Homo sapiens: one gene and its partners. The protein of the gene in region 2 purifies or fractionates together with the protein of the main gene of each other region. This does not show direct contact. Each region holds a gene or a part of one and is shown on either strand. Other genes may lie near its edges.

Region 1 (7,584 bases), on a different chromosome or scaffold from region 2:
CCACTGGCCAGGTACCTGGGGAAGAAGAGAGGATGCTTGACACTGCACATGTGCATTTGTGCCACCTATTCAATCACTTTCTGTGAATAGAATATGGAACTGGACTCTTTCCTCGCCCCTGGAAGGGAGAAAGACAATACTGATGCTGTCCTCTGGGAGAATACATCAGGAGGCCATTTCTTTCCTCTCCACAGCTATAACCAGCTTTTGAAGCTTCTCATTACCTTTCTAAGTTTGAGAGAAGCAACTAATCCCAGTTTCACAGATGAAAAATTAACTCGGAAAGGTTAAGTGATTTATACAAGTCACACAGCTCAGATCTTGAAAAATCAAGTCTAGGAGAGGTTTGTCCAAGGCAGGGGTCCTTAAGCAGCCTTTGGGGACCATGCCCTACTGAGGAAGTCCCTTAATTGCAAGCTGAGTCCAGAGCTTGGGTCTATGGTAGGCAGCCCTGAGGCCCCATCAATTATAACTCTGGGAGACCCTCCCCAAACCAGGCAAAGACTGCACCCCCACATACCCCCTCCATGAGTCTGCAGCTGTCCTTACTTTCCCGTAGGGCTGAAGGCCACAGAAATGACTGCCTCACTGTGACCCTCCAAGGAGCTGGTGCAGCGAGTCACAGCCCGGACTCTGAAGATAGCCTGTGGCTGGTAGATGATGTCTAGGACCTTCTCTGTCTCCACTGCCTGGGACTCCAACGTCTTCCCCAGTGAGGAGACGATCTCAGCATCGTGGACAAAGAAAGCCAGTGGCAGGGGATCCTCCTGAAGGACAATGGTAAAGGACAAACCCGCAACAATGGATGTGCAGGGGCACCCTCTGCCAGGGATGCTCCCCACTGAGCTGTGGGAGGTGAAGCTTCTTCTTTTCAGCCATCGTGCTAGGGATACCCCCATCATTGCCCATTGAGCAAGACCTTTTATTTATTTATTTATTTATTTTTGAGACAAGAGTCTCGCTCTGTCACCCAGGCTGGAGTGCAGTGGAGCAATCTCTGCTCACTGCAACCTCCGCGTCCTGGGTTCAAGAGATTCTCCTGCCTCAGCCTCCCGAGTAGCTGGGATTACAGGCACCCATCACCACGCCTGGCTAAGTTTTATATTTTTAGTAGATACGGGGTTTCGCCACATTGGCCAGGCTGGTCTCAAGCTCCTGACCTCAGGTGATCCACCTGCCTCGGCCTCCCAAAGTGCTGGGATTACAGGCGTGAGCCACTGTGCCCAGCCTAGCAAGACCTTTTAAGTCACTGAACAGCAGTTGCAGGACACTTACACAGCACTTGGAAATTCTTTTTTCTTTTTTTTTTGAGATGGAGTCTCGTTCTGTTACTCAGGCTGGAGTGCAGTGGTGAGATCTCAGCTCACTGCAACCTCTGCCTCCTGGGTTCAAGCAATTCTCCTGCTTCAGCCTCCCGAGGAGCTGGGACTACAGGCGCCTGCCACCACGCCTGGCTAATTTTTGTATTTTCAGTAGAGACTGTTTTCGCCATATTGGCTAAGCTGGTCTCGAACTCCTGACCTCTAGTGATCTGCCCACCTCAGCCTCCCAAAGTACTGGGATTACAGGCATAAGCCACTGCACCCGGCCTGAAATTCTTTATCTGCATCTCATAACAACCGTGGGAAGTAGATACTAATATTCCCACTGACAGTTTTCAAAAGCAGAGGCTCAGAACAACTAAGTAATTAGTTCAATGTCCTATTGCCAATGATTAATTCAGGTTCTTTACGTCCAAGATAGGATTAGCATATAGCATTATGCAGTGTTTCCCAAACTACCACACTACACTATATTTGTGTAAAAAGCTCCCAAAACGCCTGTTAAAAAATGTAGACTTTCTGCTTCATCCCAGAGTTTGGTTTAGTAAGGCTGGGATGGGGTCCAGGAACTGCAATTTTAAGGACCTCCCCTGTCCCCAGGGCAGCTCTTCAGTAAACACACTGGCTTAAAGGTTAAAAGCAAAGGCCGGGTGCGGTGGCTCACGCCAGTAATCCCCAGCACTTTGGAGGCCAAGGCGGGAGGATCACGAGGTCAAGAGATCGAGACCATCCTGGCCAACGTGGTGAAACCCAGTCCCCACTAAAAATACAAAAATTAGCTGGGTGTGGTGGCGCGCGCCTGTAGTCCCAGCTACTCGGGAGGCTGAGGCAGGAGAATCGCTTGAACCTGGGAGGCAGAGATTGCAGTGAGCAGAGATCACGCCACTACACTCCAGCTTGCCAGCCTGGCGACAAAGTGAGACTCCGTCTCAAAAAAAAAAAAAAAAAAGGTAAATAAATAAATAAATAAAAGCATGGGTATTCGGATAGTTTTGGGTTCCAATTCCAAATCTGCTACCTACTACATAGCATCGTGCAAAATACTGAGTCCCTCCGGGCCACGCTGTAAAATGGGGATATTAACGTGTCCCAGACTGGGGGACTGTGACAAAGAATCAATGAAATACAGCATCCGGTGCGTTCAAAGCTAGGCCCCTCTCCGCAGGTGGACCCCTTTGGTTGGCGTGTAAAGCGCTATGCCACTGATTCCATCTCTGACATAGGTGGGAGCTCACGCCAGGTGGGTCACCACAGTCCGTTAGCGGGGGACCATGAACCGCAGACCCTCGGTAATATGATTCCCCCACCGCATCCGCCCGGGGGTGGAGATGCGAGGCCGCCCTGGCCAGCCACTTACCTGGGCCAGTAGCGCGTTGCACACGAGCTGCAGCCTGTCCGGGGTGATGTCCACGGGCACGTCGAACGGGGAACCCAGCAGCTGCCCGCCCTCATCCTGGAACTGCACTAGCAACCGCTGCACATCGCGCGCCACCGCCTCGTCCTGCGCGAGCAAGTGGGGCGGGAGTCAGTCTGGTCGCCCGCCCAGAAGGGCCCCACTTCGCCTCTCTCAGGCCTCAGGGACCCGGGCCCTAGCGCCCCGCGGCGACGCCCCCCGCCCCCATCCACGCACACCCACCGGCACTGCTGCCGCCATCCTGCGTCCCCACGTGGAGGAGAAAGAGCCCGGCAGACAGAGCGCCGTCTCCGTGGTCGGGCGGGGTCGCCGCCGGCCACATCGCCCTCTGCTGTTGGGGAGGAGAAGCGTCCCGCTGCGCACGGCCTCAGGGATTAGAAATGGGCTTACCTGGTGCTCCTCCCGCCCCTCAACAGCCTTCACATTTATTTTTCGCCAGGGTCTTAGAGGACACAGTAAACTTTTGACTCTTCACAACAGGGATTCTTGCCCCATTTTAATTTAATTTCATTTTGAGACAGAGTTTCACTCCGTCGCCCAGACTGGAGGGCAGTGGTGCCACCACGGCTCACTGCAGTCTCGAACTTTCTGGCACAGCGATCCTCCCACCTCAGCCTCAGAGTAGCCTGGACTACAGGCACATGACACCCTGCCCGGTTATTTTTTTCTCATTTTTTGTAGAGACGAGGTCTCACTATGTTGCCCAGGCTGGTCTCAAACTCCTGAACTCAAGCAGCAAGTCCCCCACTCCCCAGCCTCAGTGTCCCAAAGTGCTGGGATTACAGGTGTGAGCCACCACGCCTAGCCTAGAAATTAGTATCCTTTTAAAAATGGATCAAGTCAAGGCTGGGCGTGGTGGCTGACACCTGTAATCCCAGCGCTTTGGAAGGCCCAGGCGAGCAGATCACTTGAGTCCAGGAGTTCGAGACCAGCCTGGCCAACATGGTGAAACCAGGTCTCTACTAAAAATACAAAAAAATTAACCAGCCGTGGTGGCATGCGCCTGTGGTCATAGCTACTGGAGAGGCTGAGGTGGTAGATTCTCTTGAACCTGGGAGGCAGAGGTTGCAGTGAGCCGAGCTCTCACCACTGCACTCCAGCCTGGATGACAGAGCAAGACTCTGTCTCAATAAATAAATAAATAAATAAATAAATAAATAAATAAATAAATAAATAAAATGGATCAACTCAATAATACTCGAGTACAAAAGCAAATCATTTCTACAATCATCAATGCTGTAAAGCAATAATAGTGATAATGACATCAACAAGTCAGGAATTGTTCTAAGTGCTTTCCCACATAACTCATTTAATTCTTACAACCCTTTTCTCCCCATATTACTGAGGAACTGAAGCAGACAGCAATGAACTTGAGCTCTTTTGCCTGAAACGAAGGATCTCCCTTGCCAACTCTCCTCTCTCTCCCTCCACTGCTCAGGCAGTCTCAAGCTCTGCCAAGTCATCCTCATGAACACAGCTTGAATCTGCTCTCCCCATCTCCACTGCCTCACTCTGGTCAGAGTCACCATCATCACCTGCCTGGACCGCTACAACAGCCTCCCGATGAGCCCCCCCATTTCCATTCCTGCCTCTTTCTACCCATTCTCCACGATGCAGCCAGGGTTATCTTTTCAGACCAAAAATCTGGCCTGCTGCTCTTCACCCTCAAACCCTGCGACGGCTCCCTTACATGCAGGAAAAAAAGAACACTCCTTATAATGGTCAATTCAGCCTTGCTATGTCCAGCCACCCCTCTCTTTAGGTTAAATCTTGCTGGCTTTTTCTGAGTTCTTACAAGGCATGGCTCTTCCTGCATCAGTGATTTTGCCCATGCAGTTTTTTCTGTCTGGAACTGTTATGGAGTGAATTGTGCCCTTCCCCTAATTCAAGCTTGTCCAACCCCTGGGCCACAGGCTGCATGCAGCCCAGGATGGCTTTGAATGCAGCCCAACACAAATTCGTAAGCTTTCTTAAAACATTATGAGATTTTCTTTCGATTTTTTTTTTCAGCTCATCAGCTATCATTAGTGTATTTTATGTGTAGCCCAAGGCAATTCTTTTTCCACTGTGGCCCAGAGAAGCCAAAAGATTGGACGCCTCTGCCCTAATTTATATATTGAAGCCCTAGCTCTGAATGTGGCTGTATTTGGAGATAGCATATATTATTATTATTGTTTTTTTTTTTTTTTTTTAGAGACAGGGTCTCACTCTGTTGCCCAGACTAGAGTGTAGTAGTGTGATCATAGCTCACACAGCTTCAAACTCCCAGGCTCAAGTGCTCTTCTTACCTTAGTGTTCTGAGTAGCTAGGACAACAGGTGTGTGCCACTATACCTGACACTCGGCTAACTTTTAAAAATTTTTGTAGAGACAAGGCTGTCACTCTGTTGCCTAAGCTGGTCTCGAACTCTTGGCCTCAAATGATCTTCCTGTCTTAGGCCTTCCAAAGTGCTGGGATTACAGGTGTAAGCCACCATGCCTGGCCTGGAGATGGGCCCTGAAAGGACATAGGAAGGGTTAATAAGTGAGTTTGTATGGGTAGGACACTAATCAGATAGAACTGGTGCCCTTGTGAAATGAGGAGACTCCAGAGTACTCTCTCTCTGTCTCTCCCCGCCCCCCGCACTGCCTCCCTGAGCACACACAAAGATGAGGCCATAGTAGGACACAGTGAGAAGGTGGCTGTTTGCATCCAGGAAGAGAGGCCTCACCAGAAACCAACCCTCATGGCACCTTGACCTTGGATTTCTCTACTCCAGAGCTGTGAGAAAATAAATTTCTGTTGTTGAAGCCTCCCTGTCTGTGCTATTTTGTTATGGTAGCCAGAGCCAACTAATACAGGAATAGTTCCTCATTCTTCAGGTCTTGCCTTGAATATTTATTCATTCATCCAATAAATGTATTGAGTGCCTACTCTCTGCCAGACGTTGTCGGAGTTCTATGTGTATCAACTCATTTATCACTTACGCAGGGAAACCTTTGAAATGATGTCATATGATGTCATATTTCCCTGTTGTATGTTTTCAAAACATCCTGGTATTCCTCACATTTAGAAATCACAGATCCAGCTGGCACAGTGGCTCACACCTGTAATCTCAGCACTTTGGGAGGCCGAGGTGGGAGTATCACTTGAGCCCAGGAGTTTGAGACCAGACTGGGCAACATGGTGAGATCATGTCTCTACAAAAAAAATAGCCAGGTGGCATGCACCTATAGTCCCAGCTACTCAGGAGGCTGAGATGGGTGAATTGCTTGAACCTGGGAGGTCAAGGCTGCAGTCAGCCGTGATCATGCCACTGCTTTCCACTTGTGACAGCGAGACCCTGTCTCAATTAAAAAAAAAACCAAAACAAACAAACGAACAAAAAAAAGAAATCACAGAATCACAGATCCATGGAATTATTTCATTCATTCATTCATTCAACAAATAGCATTGAGCACCTTCTTTTTATTTTTTCTTCTTTTTTGAGATGGAATCTTGCTCTGTCACCAAAGCTGGAGTGCAGTGGCATGATCTTGGCTCACTGCAACCTCTGCCTCTGGGGTTCAAGTGATTCTCCTGCCTCAGACTCCTTAGTAGCTGGGATTACAGGCACCCGCCACCATGCCCGGCTAACTTTTGTGTTTTTAGCAGAGATGGAGTTTCGCCATGTTGGCCAGGCTGGTCTGGAACTCCTGACCTCAGGTGATCCGCCTGCCTTGGCCTCCCAAAGTGCTGGGATTACAGGTGTCAGCCACTGTGCCCCACACCATTACAAACGCTTGGAATATGTGAGGGAACAACATAGACACAAATCCTTGTCCTCACCAGTGTTCTATGCTTCACAGTTCCTCACACATAATAAATGTTTAAGAAATGTGGGCCAGGCGCGGTGGCTCACGCCTGTAATCCCAGCACTTTGAGAGGCCTAGGCAGGTGGATCACGAGGTCAGGGGTTCAAGATCAGCCTGGCCAACATGGTGAAACTCCATCTCTACTAAAAATACAGAAATTAGCCAGGCATGGTGGTGGATGTCTGTAATCCCAGCTACTCATGAGGCTGAGGCAGGAGAATCTCTTGAACCCAGAAGGTGGAGGTTGCAGTGAGCCGAGATCGTGCCACTGCACTCCAGCCTGGGCAACAGAGCAAGACTCTGTCTCAAACAACAACAACAACAACAACAAAAAGATGTTTAAGAAATGCTTGTGGAATGAATTACTGAATCAGCATTTGAATATAAGATCCCTTGGACCTAAAGTCACAGAACCGCAGGTCTCTGCCAATGTCAGGATCCTTTATCCTATTACCTCATTGCTGCAGAGAGCTTGCCCCACAAAAGGGCCCAGGGCTTGTGATAACATGAAGGCAGGGAATTCATCCATCTATTCATTCATTTATTTGCTCATTCAACAAACATGTGTTAGGGCTGGGCTTTGTGTCCAGCAGGGCGCTACAACTTGTCCAAGGTCATATAGCTGTGTGTCCAAGGTCACAGGTCTGCGAGTAGAATCTAGTATGAATGATTCCACCTGGGATTTTCTTCAGTGTCTTTCTCAGCTCTGGCCAGATAAGTTTGAAGATATGTGTGGGGTGGAGGGGAGAGGGATGAGAGGTGAGTGGAGGAAATCATCATCATGAAGACACCATTCATTCATTCATTCATTCATCCATCCATTCATTCCATTCAGGAAACACACTTCGGACACTGAATGTGCCAGAACCTGTGCAGGAAGGGGGTTGGGGGACAAGCTATATGGGATGCTGTCTTTGCCTTCCAGGAGGAAGCTCACAGCCCAGGCTTGAGGGCACTGAAATGCAGAAGAGTTCTGGGTCCAACTGGGGACAACGTCATAAATTTGCTTCAGGAA
Region 2 (7,026 bases):
AGGTGGGAGGATTACTTGAGCCAAAGAATGCAAGGCTACAGCAAGTTATGATCACGCCTCTGCACTCCAGTCTGAGCAACAGAGCAAGACTCTCTCTTTAAAAAGAAATAAACAGGCCAGGCACAGTGGCTTACACTTGTAATCCTAGCACTGTGGGAGGCAGAGGTGGAAGGACTACTTGAGTCCAGGAACTCCAGACCAGCCTGGGCAACACAGTGAGATCTTGTCTCTATTAAAAATCAAAAAAATGAGCAGGGTGTGATAGCACGTGTCTGTTGTCCCAGCTACTCAGGAGGCTGAGGTGGGAGAATCACTTCAGCCCAGGAGGTTGAGGCTGCAGGGAGCCATGATTGCACCACTGCAACTCCAGTTAGGGGTAACACAGTGAGACCGTGTCTCAAATATTTTTTAAAAGATCACTTTAAACATAAAGACACAAATAGGTTCTAAGAAAAAGGATAAAGATAGATCACACTAACACTAGTTGAAAGAAAGGTGGGGGCTGGGTGCAATGGCTCACGCCTGTTAATCCCAGCAACTCAGGAGGTCAATGTGGGAGGATTGCTGGAGGTCCCACATTCATGGTTAAGGCTGGAGTACAGCTTTGACCGCACCACTGTACTCCAGCCTAGGTGACAGATTGGGACCCTGTCTCTTAAAAATAAAAAGAAAGCTGGACAACATGGATGAACCATGAGGGCATTACACTAAATAAAACAAGCCAGTCACAAGACGACAAATCCTGCATGGTTCCACTTACTTGAGGTATGTAAAATAATAAAATTCTTAGAAACAGACAGGAGAATGGTGACTGCCAGGATCTGGGACAGGGAAAAAGGGAATTGCTGTTCAACAGATCCAGAGCTTCAGGTCTGCAAGATGAAAATGTTCTAGAGATCTGCTGTACAACAACATGCATACAATTAATGCTACTGTACTACAGACTTAAAAAGGGTTACGATGGTAAATTTTACAGGTTTTTGACCATAATGAAAAGAAAAGCAAGCTGAAATGCTGAAATGATTATTTTAATGTCAGACAAAGTAGATTTCAAAAAAAGAATATTATCAGGGATAAAGAAGGTCATTTCATAATGATAAATTTGTTAATTAATCAAGAAAACATAGCCCCACATTTATGACCCCAGTAAAAGAGTTTCCAAAGATATGAAGCAAAAACCAATAGAACTGCAGGAAAAACAGACATGTCCAGTTATATTCAGAGATTTCAACGTCCCTCTCTCAATACAGCAGACTTGAACCACATCATCAACCATCATGATCTGACTACTTACAGAACACTCAATAAAATCAGAACACACGTTCTATCAAGTGTGCATGGAACACTCACAAAGACAGAGACCAGATTCTGGACCATAAAGTAAGTCTCGATGAACTATCCAAGTCATGAGAGTATGTCCTCTGACCACATGGAACTAAATTAGAAACCAATAACAGAAAGTAAGCCAGGTGCAGTGGCACATGCAGGGAGCCCCAGCTCCTCAGGAGGCTGAGCTGGGAGAATCACCTGAGCCCAGGAGTTTGAGTCCAGCCTGGGCAACATAGTGAGATCCCATATGGGGATGGGGATAGGGAAGGCGACGGGGATGGGGATGGGGACAGGGATGAGGAGAGGAGAGAAGAAGAGAGGAGAGGAGAGGAGAGGAGCAACACAGTGAGATCCCACACAGGACGGGGACGGGGACGGGGAGGGGAGGGGAGAGGAGAGGAGAGATCAACAACAGAAAGATATCTGGACATTTCCCAACTATCTAGAAACTATATAACACTTCTAAAAAACCAAAAGGCAAATGAGATAGCATTTTGAAATGAATGAAATATAACAGATCAGAATTTGTGGGATGCCACAAAAGCAGTACTTAGGGAGACATTTATGGAGCTAAATGCTCGTATCAGAAAAAAAGAAAGGTCTCAAATCAATGATCTCAGCTTCTACATTAAGAAGCAAGAAAAAGAACAAGCCCAAGAAAACAGAAAACGATAAAGATCAATGTGGAAATACATGAAACAGAAAAACAATAGAGAAAAAGCAAAAGCTGGTTCTTTGGGAAGATCAATTGAAACCTGCAGCCAGGCCGGGCGCGGTGGGTCCACCTGTAATCCTAGCACTTTAGGAGGCTGAGGCAGGGGGATCCCTTGAGCCCAGGAGTTTGAGACCAGCCTGGGCAACATAGTGAGACCCTGTCTCTTTTTTTGTTTTGCTTTGTTTTTTTGGTTTTGGGGTTTTTATTTTTTTGAGGCGGAGTCTTGCTCTGTCACCCAGGCTGGAGTGCAGTGGCGCGATCTTGGTTCACTGCAACCTCCACCTCCAGGATTCAAGCAATTCTCCTACCTCAGCCTCCCAAGTAGCTGGAATTACAGGTGCATACCACAACTCCTGGCTAATTTTTGTATTTTTAGTAGAGATGGGGTTTCACCATGTTGGCTAGGCAGGTCTCAAACTCCTGACCTCAGGTGATCCACCCGCATTGGCATCCCAAAATGCTGGGATTACAGGTGTGAGCCACTGCGCCTGGCAGAGACCCTGTCTCTTAAAATATATATGTATGTATATATAAAATCTAAATTTAAAAAAAAAAACCCTCCAGCCAGAAGAGCAGGAAAAAAAAGAGCACACAAACCAGTATCAGGAATAATACAGGTTATATCATGACAGATCCTGCAGACAGTAAAAGAAGAATAAGGGCATATTAGGAACCACTTCATGCCTCTAAATTCAACCGTTTAGATAAAATGGACAAACTTCTTGAAAGCTACAAGCTCATGGAAGAAAAACAACCTGAACAGCCCTTTATCTATTGAAGAAGTTGAATTTGTAGTTCAAAACCTCTCCATGAAGAAAACTGCAGGTACGGAGGCCTTCCCTAGTGAACCCTACCCAACTTTTAAGAAAGAAATACCAATTCTAAACAAACTCTTCCAGAAAACAGAAGAGGGAACACACCCCAACTCCTTCTTCGAGGCCACACAGGCAGGATGGAGACGCCCCCTCACCTGTGTTTGTTGCAAGGACCACGTTTGCCGAAGTGAGGCTCTCGAGCATAGCTGCTTCTTCCCTCTCCTTCAGTTCTTTTCTTAACAGCTTAATTTCATTTCGAAAATTACTTTTCTCTCTCTTATCCTGGGTCTTTTTGTTTTTCACCTATAAAGAAAAACAAAGGAGATACACTTACTTCAGTCCAACTTTGTACTTCTTCAACTCTATTTATGAAGTGCTTCTATCATTCAGTCCAGTTCAATAAACTCCGTAAAAAACACTCAGAAATCTTCCTTGAAAGAGACACAGATACACACACGCAACTAAGCACCTTACATCCTCACTTGCCTTGAAGTCACAGGAAGAGACATTTTAAGTCCTGGAAAGAGACCACGTTTTTAACTCAGAGGAGACCAGAAATTGGACCAGCCCTGCCCTGCACACAGGCATTTGATCTTGGGGAAGAAAAAGCGCTTGCCCGCCCCAGGATTTGGGTTGTAGGAGCTTACGAATAGAGAGACTGAGCTTCACATATTATTCTACATTTTTCAAGAGATTAAAAAAAATTTTTTCAACCCATAATCAAAACCTCAACTTACTTTAATATCTCAAAAAGATGGAACTGGTCAGGCGCGGTGGCTCATGCCTGTAATCCCAGCACTTTGGGAGCCCGAGGCAGGCAGATCACGAGCTCAGGAAATCGAGACCAGCCTGGCCAACACAGTGAAACGCTGTCTCTACTAAAAATACAAAAAATTAGCTGGGCATGGTGTGTGCCTGTAATCCCAGCTACTCGGGAGGCTGAGGCAGGAGAATTGCTTGAACCCAGGAGGCGGAGGTTGCAGTGAGCCGAGATTGCACCACTGCACTCCAGCCTGGGCGACAGAGCAAGATTCTTTAAAAAAAAAAAAAAAAAAAAAAAAAAGATGTAACCTTTCCTTATTTGTGATTTCTACTTTGGGGGATGGAGTTTTAGCAGGGGTGACAGGAGGTATTTTACTGTGTATAATTTACAGAGAAAGAAAATCCTCAAAAGCACCAATTTCAACAGGAAATGAAATCACCCACATTTGTGATGAGCAAACATCATGCATATTCCTCCACCACCTCGAACCTGCATGACATGCATCTATCCTTCCTCCCCCTCCCAGCAGGCGGCCCATCCCCACGCTGCCATGCAAGCAGCCACGCAAGCAGCCTCGATGCCACGGGCCCATAGCAAAGACTGGCTCCCAGCACCCTCTCTGCTGCCGCCACTCCTCCGAGGTTAGGACACCGAGGGTGCAGGTGCTGACCGTAAGCACACAGGACAAGATGTGAGCACAGACATTAGAGCAAAGACTGGCTCCAGCACCCTCCCTGCTGCCATCACTCCTCTGAGACTAAGACACCAAGGAGTACCAGTACCGACAGTGAGCACACAGGACAGGACGTGAGCACAGACACTACAACAAAGCGTCCACGGGAGAACCAAAGAGCTCAAAAGTGTCGGAGTGTCGGGCTGGGGGGAAAAGGCCCTCTCAAATGGAAGAAACCTACCACCACCCTACTTCTCCAGCCGACTGGTGTCCTCTTTCACAAGGAGAAGGTGGAATGGACGGAAAGCTCTAGGAGGATGCCAATTTTTTCAATGTTTATGTTCAGGCTACTTTTCTCCCATTGCCACTACTAGCAAGACAACAGGACCAGACAGAAAGACACCCAGGAAAATGTTTGGTTTTTTTTTTGAGACGGAGTCTTGCTTTGTCACCGAGGCTGGAGTGCAGTGGAGTGACCATGGCTCACTGCAACCTCCACCTCCCAGGTTCAAGAGATTCTCCTGCCTCAGCCTCCCAAGTGGCTGGGAATACAGGTGCCCGCCACCATGCTCAGCTAATTTTTGTATTTTTAGTAGAGACGGGGTTTCACCATGTGGGCCAGGCTGGTCTCGAACTCCTGACCTCAACTGTTCCGCCCACCTCGGCCTCCCAAAGTGCTGGGATTGCACGTGTGAGCCACTGTATCCGGCCGGAAAATGTTTTCTTTACAATTCCTCACACCTACTAACCAAGTGCTCTGAAGACAGTTGAGACTCTGTTAAATGCTAAGTATAGTTCTCTATCAAAAATGGGCAGCCCTGGCTGGGTACAGTAGCTCACACCTGTAATCCAGCACTTTGGGAGGCTGAGGCGGGTGGATCACTTGAGGTTAGGAGTTCGAGACCAGCCTGGCCCACATGGCGAAACCCCCGTCTCTACTAAAAATAAAAAAATTGGTTGGGTGTGGTGGCACATGCCTGTAGTCCTAGCTACTTGGGAGGGTGAGGCACAAGAATCACTTGACCCCGGGAGGCGGAGCCTGCAGTGAGCCAAGACAGCAGCACTACACTCCGGCCTGGGTGACAGAGCGAGACTCCATCTCAAAAAAAAAAACAAAAACAAAGGCCAGGCATGGTGGCTCACGCCTGTAATCCCAGCACTTTGAGAGGCCGAGGCGGGCAGAGCACCTGAGGTCAGGAATTCAAGACCAGCCTGACCAGTATGATGAAACCCTGTCTCAACTAAAAATAGAAAAATTAGCCAGGCGTGGTGACACGCACCTGCAGTCCCAGCTACTAGGGAGGCTGAGGCAGGAGAATCGCTTGAACCCAGGAGGCAGAGGTTGCAGTGAGCCGAGATTGCACCACTGCACTCCAGCCTGAGCAATGAGAGCAAAACTCTGTCACAAAAAAAAAAAAAAAAAAAAAAAAAAAAAAGGGCAGCCCAATTTTTAAAATTATTAAAGGAATCGACAGAAGCAAGAGAAGGTCAAGAGGAATGCAGACAGATAAATTTGCTCCTTAAAAAGACTGCAGATCAGAAGCCCACGCCCCACATGGACACTGGCCATGACACCTACAAAGACCTGGTCGATGTCCTTCCTGATATCTGCAACAATCTGGGCACTGTCGCTCCGCGCTAAAACCGCATCCAGGGAGTGCTGCTGAATGGACTCCAGGAGGCGGGCAGGGTGTCCCAGGCGCAGAATCCGCTGCTTACACAGAGCCAGGCGCTCCACCAGATTGTCCACGGCGATGTTGGAGGGGGCGCAGCACAGAACCTGGGAACCGCAAGTTAGGATCTGGTCATTTACTTTGTAATCAAACCACTGAAGTTGACACTAAAACAACAAAAAGCCTTAAAGGTAGAAAGAAGCACAAGGCATGTACACACGTGCTCTCAATCAAATCTTGCATTCATTTTCCAAGCCCACGTGTGATCCGATTCTTCCGGTACCCCAAGGCAAGAACCCAGGATACAGAAAGCCCTCTGTCCTTGTGACAAGGAAGGGGATCTAATTGAGTTGGTTAACATAAGCCACCTATAGACGGCAAACTAAGAGAGCACCCTGTAACTCACAGAGCTGTAAACATTCACCCCTAGACACTGCCATGAGGTCAGAGCCCACAGCCTGCCCATCTGTATGCTCCCCTGCAGGTCTGAGCAGCAGGACACTGAAGAAGCGAGCCACTCCCCCATCCCACGCCCTGCGAGGGGGACAAGGGAACCCTTCCCGTTTCAAATGGACTCACAGTTGTCTCCCGAACACTGTAGCTCCACTATATTTTTCTTTCTTTCTTTTTTTTTTTTGAAACAAATTGCTCTATGGCCCAGGCTGGAGCGCAGTGGCAGGATCATGGAGAAACCGGCTCAATAGTCCCATGGACAGTTGTTTTTGGATAAAGAGAAATTGACCATCTGCTGTTAAAGCTTCAAACTTATTTATGTGAGTTTCTTCCTCAGAAAAGGACATTGAGGCCTCTCAAAAAAATATCAAAGATCTGAAAATCACCAGACCACTACAGGTGCCTCCTTGCCCTCCCTAGTTCCTGTTTTTTACACATTGCTACATTTCTTCCCTGTTATATAAACCCCTAGTTTTAGTCAGGGAGATGGGTTTGAGGATGAGCTCTCATCTCCTCGGCTGCACCATCTGATTATAAAGCCTCTTCCTTGGCAATACTTGTCCTCAGTAACTGGCTTTCTGTGTGGCGAGCAGCAAGACCTAGAC
Region 3 (7,026 bases), 7.5 Mb from region 2:
GCAGATGACCAGTTTGGAAGAGATACTAGTAGACCAGGTAAAAAATTATGGTAGCTTGGACCAGGGTGTTATTGATGGAGAGAAGCAGATGGATTTGGGGAGTCATTCCACTGTGCTAAGGGAAAAGTCTACAAAATCTGGAGTACAGGGAACAGAACAATGACAGGGAGAGCTGGGAAAGGGGAGGCATTGGTAAAAATTTGAGACGAGTATGTAAGTGGGTATGTATGTATATAAATATATATACATATTCATAATACACATATGAATACACATGTGAAAACACTTATTGTGGTCATATATATATATATTTTTTTTTTTTTTCTTTTTTTTTGAGACGGAGTCTCGCTCTCTTGCCAGGCTGGAGTGCAGTGGTGCGATCTTGGCCTACTGCAACCTCCACCTCCCGGATTCAAGTGATTCTCCTACCTCAGCCTCCCGGTCATATATAATTTTTATAATTTTATTCATGTAAAAACGTATACATAGAAGAGCTACGTGCGGTGGCTCATGCCTGTAATCCTAGCACCTTGGGAGGCCGAGGCAGGACGATCACTTCACCCAGGCGTTTCAGACTAACCTGGGGAACATGGTGAAACCCCGTCTCTACAAAAAATACAAAAAGTTAGCCAGGCATGGTGGCGTGTGCCTGTAGTCCCAGCTACATGGGAGACTGAGGTGGGAGAATCGCTTGAACCCAGGAGATGGAGGCTGCAGTGAGCCGAGATTGCACCACTGCACTCCAGCCTGTGCAACAGAGTGAGATCCTCTCTCTCAAAAAAAAACCCCAAAAAACATATGCACAGAAGATCACAAATGATAACTGTACATCATGTTGGATTTTCAGAGTAACATATCCATGAAAATTTCACCGGGATTTTTAAAAAATAGAGTATCACTAGCGTCCCAAACTTCCTCTGCTTCATGGTTCTCCCAGCCATTATCCCATTCTCCCCAGTGGTAGCCACTGTGACTTCACATACCTTGGATTAGTTAGGTTTTGGGGGGAAGAGGGAGAATGAATGGAAGCTTTATTATTGTTTGAGATATAGAACATTAGCAGCACCTCAGTAGCCTCTTTTGTGCCCACTCCCAGTTGTTACCCTCCCCAAATGTATCTGCTATTCCATCACTGTGTTGAGGCGGAGCCAGACCACCCCATATTTAAAGATTCACTAGAAGGGCTTGCAGGACTCAGTATATGGTTGTACTCACAGTGAAGATTTATTGCATTGTAGTAAGGATACACATCTGGATCATGAGGGAAAAAGACAGGCACAGTCTGAAGGAATCCATGTATAGGCTTCCCTATGCTCCGTCTTTCCCATGAGGGGGTCACCCAGAGCCCGTTTTTCCCCAGTGGTGGAAATGTGGCAACACGTGCCGTGTTTCTGTGGAGAGAAGACCGTTAGAGACGTAGTGTCCGAGGTTTTTACTGGGTCCTGATCACATAGGCAGCCTCTGCCTGGCATATAATAAAATTCCAAATTCCCAGAAGGGATGGCAGGTGTTCAGCAGGTGTGCTTGTTTGCACAAGCAGTCTAGGCACATTGAGCTGCATTATCAGTTAGGAAAAATTTTATTTCTGTGTATGGAACTGTTTACCAACCAAGTTCCCGGATACCAGCCCAAGGTCCTTAACAAACAGGCCTTTCTAAGGACAGCAGCCTGAGGTCTGCTGTGTTAACTCTTTTTCTGAACAATCACTATGAATGAGTTTTGCCTGTTCTAGAATTTCATATCAAAGGAATCATGTAGTATGTACTCCTGGCTTCTTCTGCTTAACATTACGTTTGTGAGATTGTAGATAGTTTGTTCATTTCATAGCCAAGTAGTATTCCATTGAATGAATATACCACAATTTATCCATCCTGCTGTTGATGGGCAAAGTTACTTCACCTTCTCCCCAATATTTGGTATTACCTCTTTTACATTGTAGTCATTCTTGTGGGTATGTAGTAATTTGTTTTGGCTTTAATTAGCATTTCCCTGATGGCAAATGAGATCGAGCATTTTTTTTTCATCTATGTATTGCCATTTTTATAACCTTTTTATTATAAAGTGCCTGTTCAAGGCCCCTTGCCTATTTTTATGTTGGGTTATTTATTTGTAGGAGTTCTTCATATATATTTTGAATGTGAGTCCATTGTTAGATATATGTATTGCAAATATCTGACATTTTGTGGTCTGCCATTTCACTCTTAAATGGCTTCTTTTAATGAAGAAAAGTTATTAACTTTAAAGTAGCCTAATTTATATATCTTTTCCTCTAGCATTTGTGCTGTTGCCTTAAGAGATCTTTATTCCAAGGTCATGAAGATAATCTCCTGTGTTATCTTTTAGTGGCTTTATTGTTTTACCTTTCATATTTAGATCTCCAATCACTTGGAACTTATTTTTGTGTATGGTGTACAAGTAGGAGTTAAGATTTATTTTTTTCATGTAGATATTCAGCTGACTCGGCCCTATTTATTGGAAAAGAAAAATCCATATTTGCTGCTGTTCAGAGCTACCTTTAAGTATCTGCAGTGCTCTATTTTGTTTCACTGTTCTGTCCTTCTGCCAGTACTTGTCTTAATAAGCTTTACAGTAAGTCTTAATATCTGGTAGTGTAATTCTTTCAACCTCCTTTTTCCTCTCTCTCTCTCAAGATTATCTTGGTTATCCCTGGTTCTTTAATGTTGTGTATAAAAAGTTTTAGAATAATTTGTCATTTCTTTCTCTTGCTCTCTCTCACAAACTTACTGGGCTTGTGATTATATTGAATTAGTAAATGGGTTTGGGGAGAATTGACATCTTTGGAATTTAGTGTGCCAGTTCATAAACTTGTGTATTTATTTAAGTTTGCTTTAAAAAGATTATTAGAGGTCTTGCACTTCTTTCACTAGATTTATTCTTAAGTAGTTCATATAGAAAGTCAGGTGTATTTGATTAGGCTCTCTGCCTGATGCCCATTCTGTTCTTGATTGTCTGAATAAGAGTTGCTGTTGATATCAGAAAGCTGTTTCAACTTAGTTCGGAGGTAATATGTACAGTATTGCTCTGTGTGGAAGGTCTCCAGAGATTTAAGAATTTAAAAAACAAACAACTGTAGCAGTATGGCAAATTATTTTATAGTGAGATCGTTTTTATACTTAATATTTGGATTTTGAAACATGAAATGTTTATAATCATAATGTACAACTGTGTAAAAGTGTGATTAAATTGTGAACATCTTAGGCATCGTTACTGTGAGCAGTAATACTTGTTGGTCAAATGAAATGCTGTACAATTTAGGTGTAGTTTTTTAAAAATCATAGCATTTTACCTTGATTTGACATTTTTAGAGTAGAGAGAATTAAGTGTCAGGGGCATGTATGTTGGGGGGAGGTGGACAATAGTGTTAAAACATAAAAAAAAAATACTGTGATTTAATTATAAAGGAATATGTTGGGCCGGGCGCAGTGGCTCGCGCCTGTAATCCTAGCACTTTGGGAGGCCAAGGTGGGCAGATCACCTGCGATCTGGAGTTCGAGACCAAGCTAGCCAACGTGCTGAAACCCCATCTGTACTATAAATACAAAACTTAGCTGAGTGTCGTGGTGCACGCCTATAATCTCAGCTCCTTGGGTGGCTGAGGCAGGAGAATTGCTTGAACCTGGGAGGCAGAGGTTGCAGTGAGCTGAGATCACACCACTGCACTCCACCCTGGGCTAAAGAGCAAGACACCATCTCAAAAAAATAATTTGTGATACTGTTTATCCACGGCAGAACTTTTATTCTTAGAAATTTGAGGAATGGGCCGGGCGCGGTGGCTCACGCCTGTAATCCCAGCACTTTGGGAGGCCGAGGCGGGCAGATCACCTGAGGTCGGGAGTTCGAGACCAGCCTGACCAACATGGAGAAACCCAGTCTCTACTAAAAATACAAAATTAGCCAGGCGTGGTAACGCATGCCTGTAATCCTAGCTACTTGGGAGGCTGAGACAGGAGAATCGCTTGAACCCGGGAAGCAGAGGTTGCAGTGAGCCAAGATCATGGCATTGCACTCCAACCTGGGCAACAAGAGCAAAACTCTGTCTCAAAAAAAAAAAAGAAAAGAAAAGAAATTTGAGGAAAGATCTAGTTGTGACTTTAGCAAGTTACTTAATATTTCTGTGCCTTCATCTGCACAAGGGGGATATTAATAGTACCCATCTTTGGAAAGGACTTAGAACGTGTCTGGCTCATAATAAGTGCTTATTATTAGCTTTTCTGAAAATATTTAAGCACCGAGAGGGCATGGACTTTGTCTTGTTCTCTGTCTTCAACACTTTTTGTGTACTAGATTGTGTAGTCACAGTCCCTGCATTCATGGAGCTTGCAATCTAGTCAGCACGTATTACTGTAGATAATAATTTGTGTTCATAGGAAGATAAACGAATACAGCCTTTATGCTTCCCTTAGAAACTAGTTATTTAAAGAACATCTAGTTGCTGATTTTTTTTTTTTTTTCCGAGACGGAGTCTGGCTCTGTCACCCAGGCTGGAGTGCAGTGGCGCAATCTCGGCTCACTGCAAGCTCCGCCTCCCGGGTTCACGCCATTCTCCTGCCTCAGCCTCCCGAGTAGCTGGGACTACAGGCGCTCGCCGCTTCGCCCAGCTAATTTTTTGTATTTTTAGTAGAGACGGGGTTTCACCGGGTTAGCCAGGATGGTCTCGATCTCCTGACCTCCTGATCTGCCTGCCTTGGCCTCCCAAAGTGCTGGGATTACAGGCGTGACAACACGCCCGGCCTAATTGCTGATTTTCTACAGTGACAGTGTTGTTTTGTATGCTTGTTGAAGTTGAAATCCTGAAGGGAATGTTAAGCTGTGAGCCTTGTGGCTGTGCATGCAGCTTTCTGCTTGTTCTGCTGATGGTTGAATCTTCTCTGATGTTTTGGGAGTTGGAAGATGCAGGTTTCAGTTCTAGTTCTGCTGATGATTTTGTACTTCCCTCCAAACAAGTTACTTCTTAACCTTGTCTGTAATTGAAATGTTGGTACTAAATGACTTCTAAGGTTTTTTCCAACTGTTATTTTGTTATTAATCAAATTCTCCAAATTATGTTCTCAGGGAGGGGAGCAGGAATCCGTTGTTATTAATGTATGTTTGCCTTAAAACTGAAGGCTGAAATTTAAATGCTGAGCTCATTTTCATAATTGTATTTTGGTTTTATTTATAGATGCCAGAAGTGGGTGGAGAACTGTAGGAGAGCAGACTTAGAAGATAAAACACCTGATCAGCTAAATAAACATTATCGATTATGTGCCAAACATTTTGAGACCTCTATGATCTGTAGAACTGTGAGTAATAGAAGAGCTTGGTGTCTCTCTGTTTGACTTGATTTCTCTCTCTCACTGTGTCTGGTTGGAAATGTAAGTATTTACCAATGTTGGAAGGTATTCCTATATCCTGCCACTTTAAGATGAAGACAGATTTGGAGCTGAAAAGTATCTGTTTTGTTCTTAAAATCCTGATTTTGCCGGGGGCCTATAATCCCAGCACTTTGGGAGGCCGAGGCAGGAAGACCACTTGAGCTCAGGAGTTTGAGACCAGCCTGGGCAACATGGCCAGATGCCGTCGCTACAGAAAATACCAAAAAAACTAGCGAGGTGTGGTGACGTATGCCTGTAGTCCCAGCTACTTGGGAAGCTGAGATGGGAGGATACTTGAGCCCATGACGTCGGGGCTGCAGAGAGTTGTGTTCATGCCACTACACTCCACTCTGGGCGACAGAGTGAGCGCTTGTCTGGAAAAAAAACTCAAAATGATTAAAACAAAACAAAACAAAACAAAACTCTTCGGTTCCTGGTGCCCCATTTCTACTCACCCAAGGTAACTACTTTTTTTTTTTTTTTTTTTAAAGACAGTCTTGCTCTGTCACCCAGGCTGGAGTGCAGTGGCGCTATCTTAGCTCACTGCAACTTCTGCCACCTCCCCCACCTCCTGGGCTCAAGCGATTCTCTCTCCTCAGCCTCCCAAGTAGCTGAGATTACAGGCATTGTGCCACCACGCCCAGCTAATTTTTGTACTTTTAGTAGAGGTGGGATTTCTCCATGTTGGCCAGGCTAGTCTCAATCTCCTGACCTCAAGTGACCCGCCCACCTCGGCCTCCCAAAGTGCTGGGATTACATGTATGAGCCTCCACACCCGGCTGAGGTAACCACTTTTAAATATTATTTAGTCTTCAGGAAAATTTTAGATGATTATAAAAGTATATGTTTATTTAAGGTAAAGTTGGTGTTTTTATTTGGAGCTCTTTAGAGCTTTTTTATGAGTAAAATTTTCATCTCGGAATGGAGCTCTTGTTTTCATGTTTTTGTATGTACTATTAGAACCAACTTTTAATTTTTATGTGGTAGATATAATGGTAAACAAATTATCCAGGTAATGTGGAAAAACATTTTCATCAATAATATGTAATTTCATATCAGGACCTACTGTTAACTGTGTGAGCTTGGCCAAGTCACTTCCCCTCTTTGGGCCCCAGTTCCTAATAAGGAGATTAGGCCAGGTAATTCCTGAGTTCTAAGATTTTTAACCCTCTGTGATTCTCTTGCTGTGATTTATAAAAGGCACAAATAAGGCAAATTTGATTGAAATGAAGCAGACTTGTTTCAGTGTAACTAATGTAACACCTCAGATATTGGGATAGACATAAACTTGATTCAAAGGTACACTATATGTTGTTATGCAGCAATTTATTTTGATATTTTTTTCAGATACATTTTGCAGAGGCATCAGAAAACTAAAGAATGATTGGGTTATTTTATTTCTCAAAATTAATTGAAGCAGATACTTGTGAAGTCATTGGGAGGTGAGCCAATTCCGGTTCAACAGTTTAATCACAAATATTTGAGGAATATTTTTGCCTTGATTTGTTAAAAGGGTAATAATGATCAACCAAAATAAAAGGTTTCATATGTTTAAAAGGCAAACTACTTTTATGTTCTTGACATGAAGTAAAAATATCCCAAATTATTTTAAATACATTTGCCATATGCATTTTTGCATTTTTATTTTAGT

The links. Proteins that work in one complex are often made in the same cells at the same time.
Region 1: the proteins of IGHMBP2 (region 2) and NLE1 purify together in Homo sapiens (affinity purification with mass spectrometry; 2 studies listed by BioGRID and IntAct, with this or other methods). This does not show direct contact.
Region 3: the proteins of IGHMBP2 (region 2) and THAP12 purify together in Homo sapiens (affinity purification with mass spectrometry; 2 studies listed by BioGRID and IntAct, with this or other methods). This does not show direct contact.

The regions. Positions count from the first base shown.
Region 1 is NC_000017.11:35,139,300-35,146,883, forward strand, and holds the start of NLE1 (notchless protein homolog 1), read right to left. Parts: upstream 3,005-7,584; 5' UTR 2,977-3,004; coding exon 2,959-2,976; intron 2,953-2,958; exon of another isoform or gene 2,824-2,952; coding exon 2,680-2,823; intron 768-2,679; coding exon 550-767; exon of another isoform or gene 521-549; intron 16-520; coding exon 1-15. UniProt on the Homo sapiens protein: Plays a role in regulating Notch activity. Plays a role in regulating the expression of CDKN1A and several members of the Wnt pathway, probably via its effects on Notch activity. Required during embryogenesis for inner mass cell survival.
Region 2 is NC_000011.10:68,913,872-68,920,897, reverse strand, and holds part of IGHMBP2 (DNA-binding protein SMUBP-2), read right to left. Parts: exon of another isoform or gene 6,548-7,026; intron 6,076-6,547; coding exon 5,875-6,075; intron 3,163-5,874; coding exon 3,015-3,162; intron 1-3,014. UniProt on the Homo sapiens protein: 5' to 3' helicase that unwinds RNA and DNA duplexes in an ATP-dependent reaction. Specific to 5'-phosphorylated single-stranded guanine-rich sequences. May play a role in RNA metabolism, ribosome biogenesis or initiation of translation.
Region 3 is NC_000011.10:76,364,129-76,371,154, reverse strand, and holds part of THAP12 (52 kDa repressor of the inhibitor of the protein kinase), read left to right. Parts: intron 1-5,182; coding exon 5,183-5,303; intron 5,304-6,722; exon of another isoform or gene 6,723-6,817; intron 6,818-7,026. UniProt on the Homo sapiens protein: Upstream regulator of interferon-induced serine/threonine protein kinase R (PKR). May block the PKR-inhibitory function of DNAJC3, resulting in restoration of kinase activity and suppression of cell growth.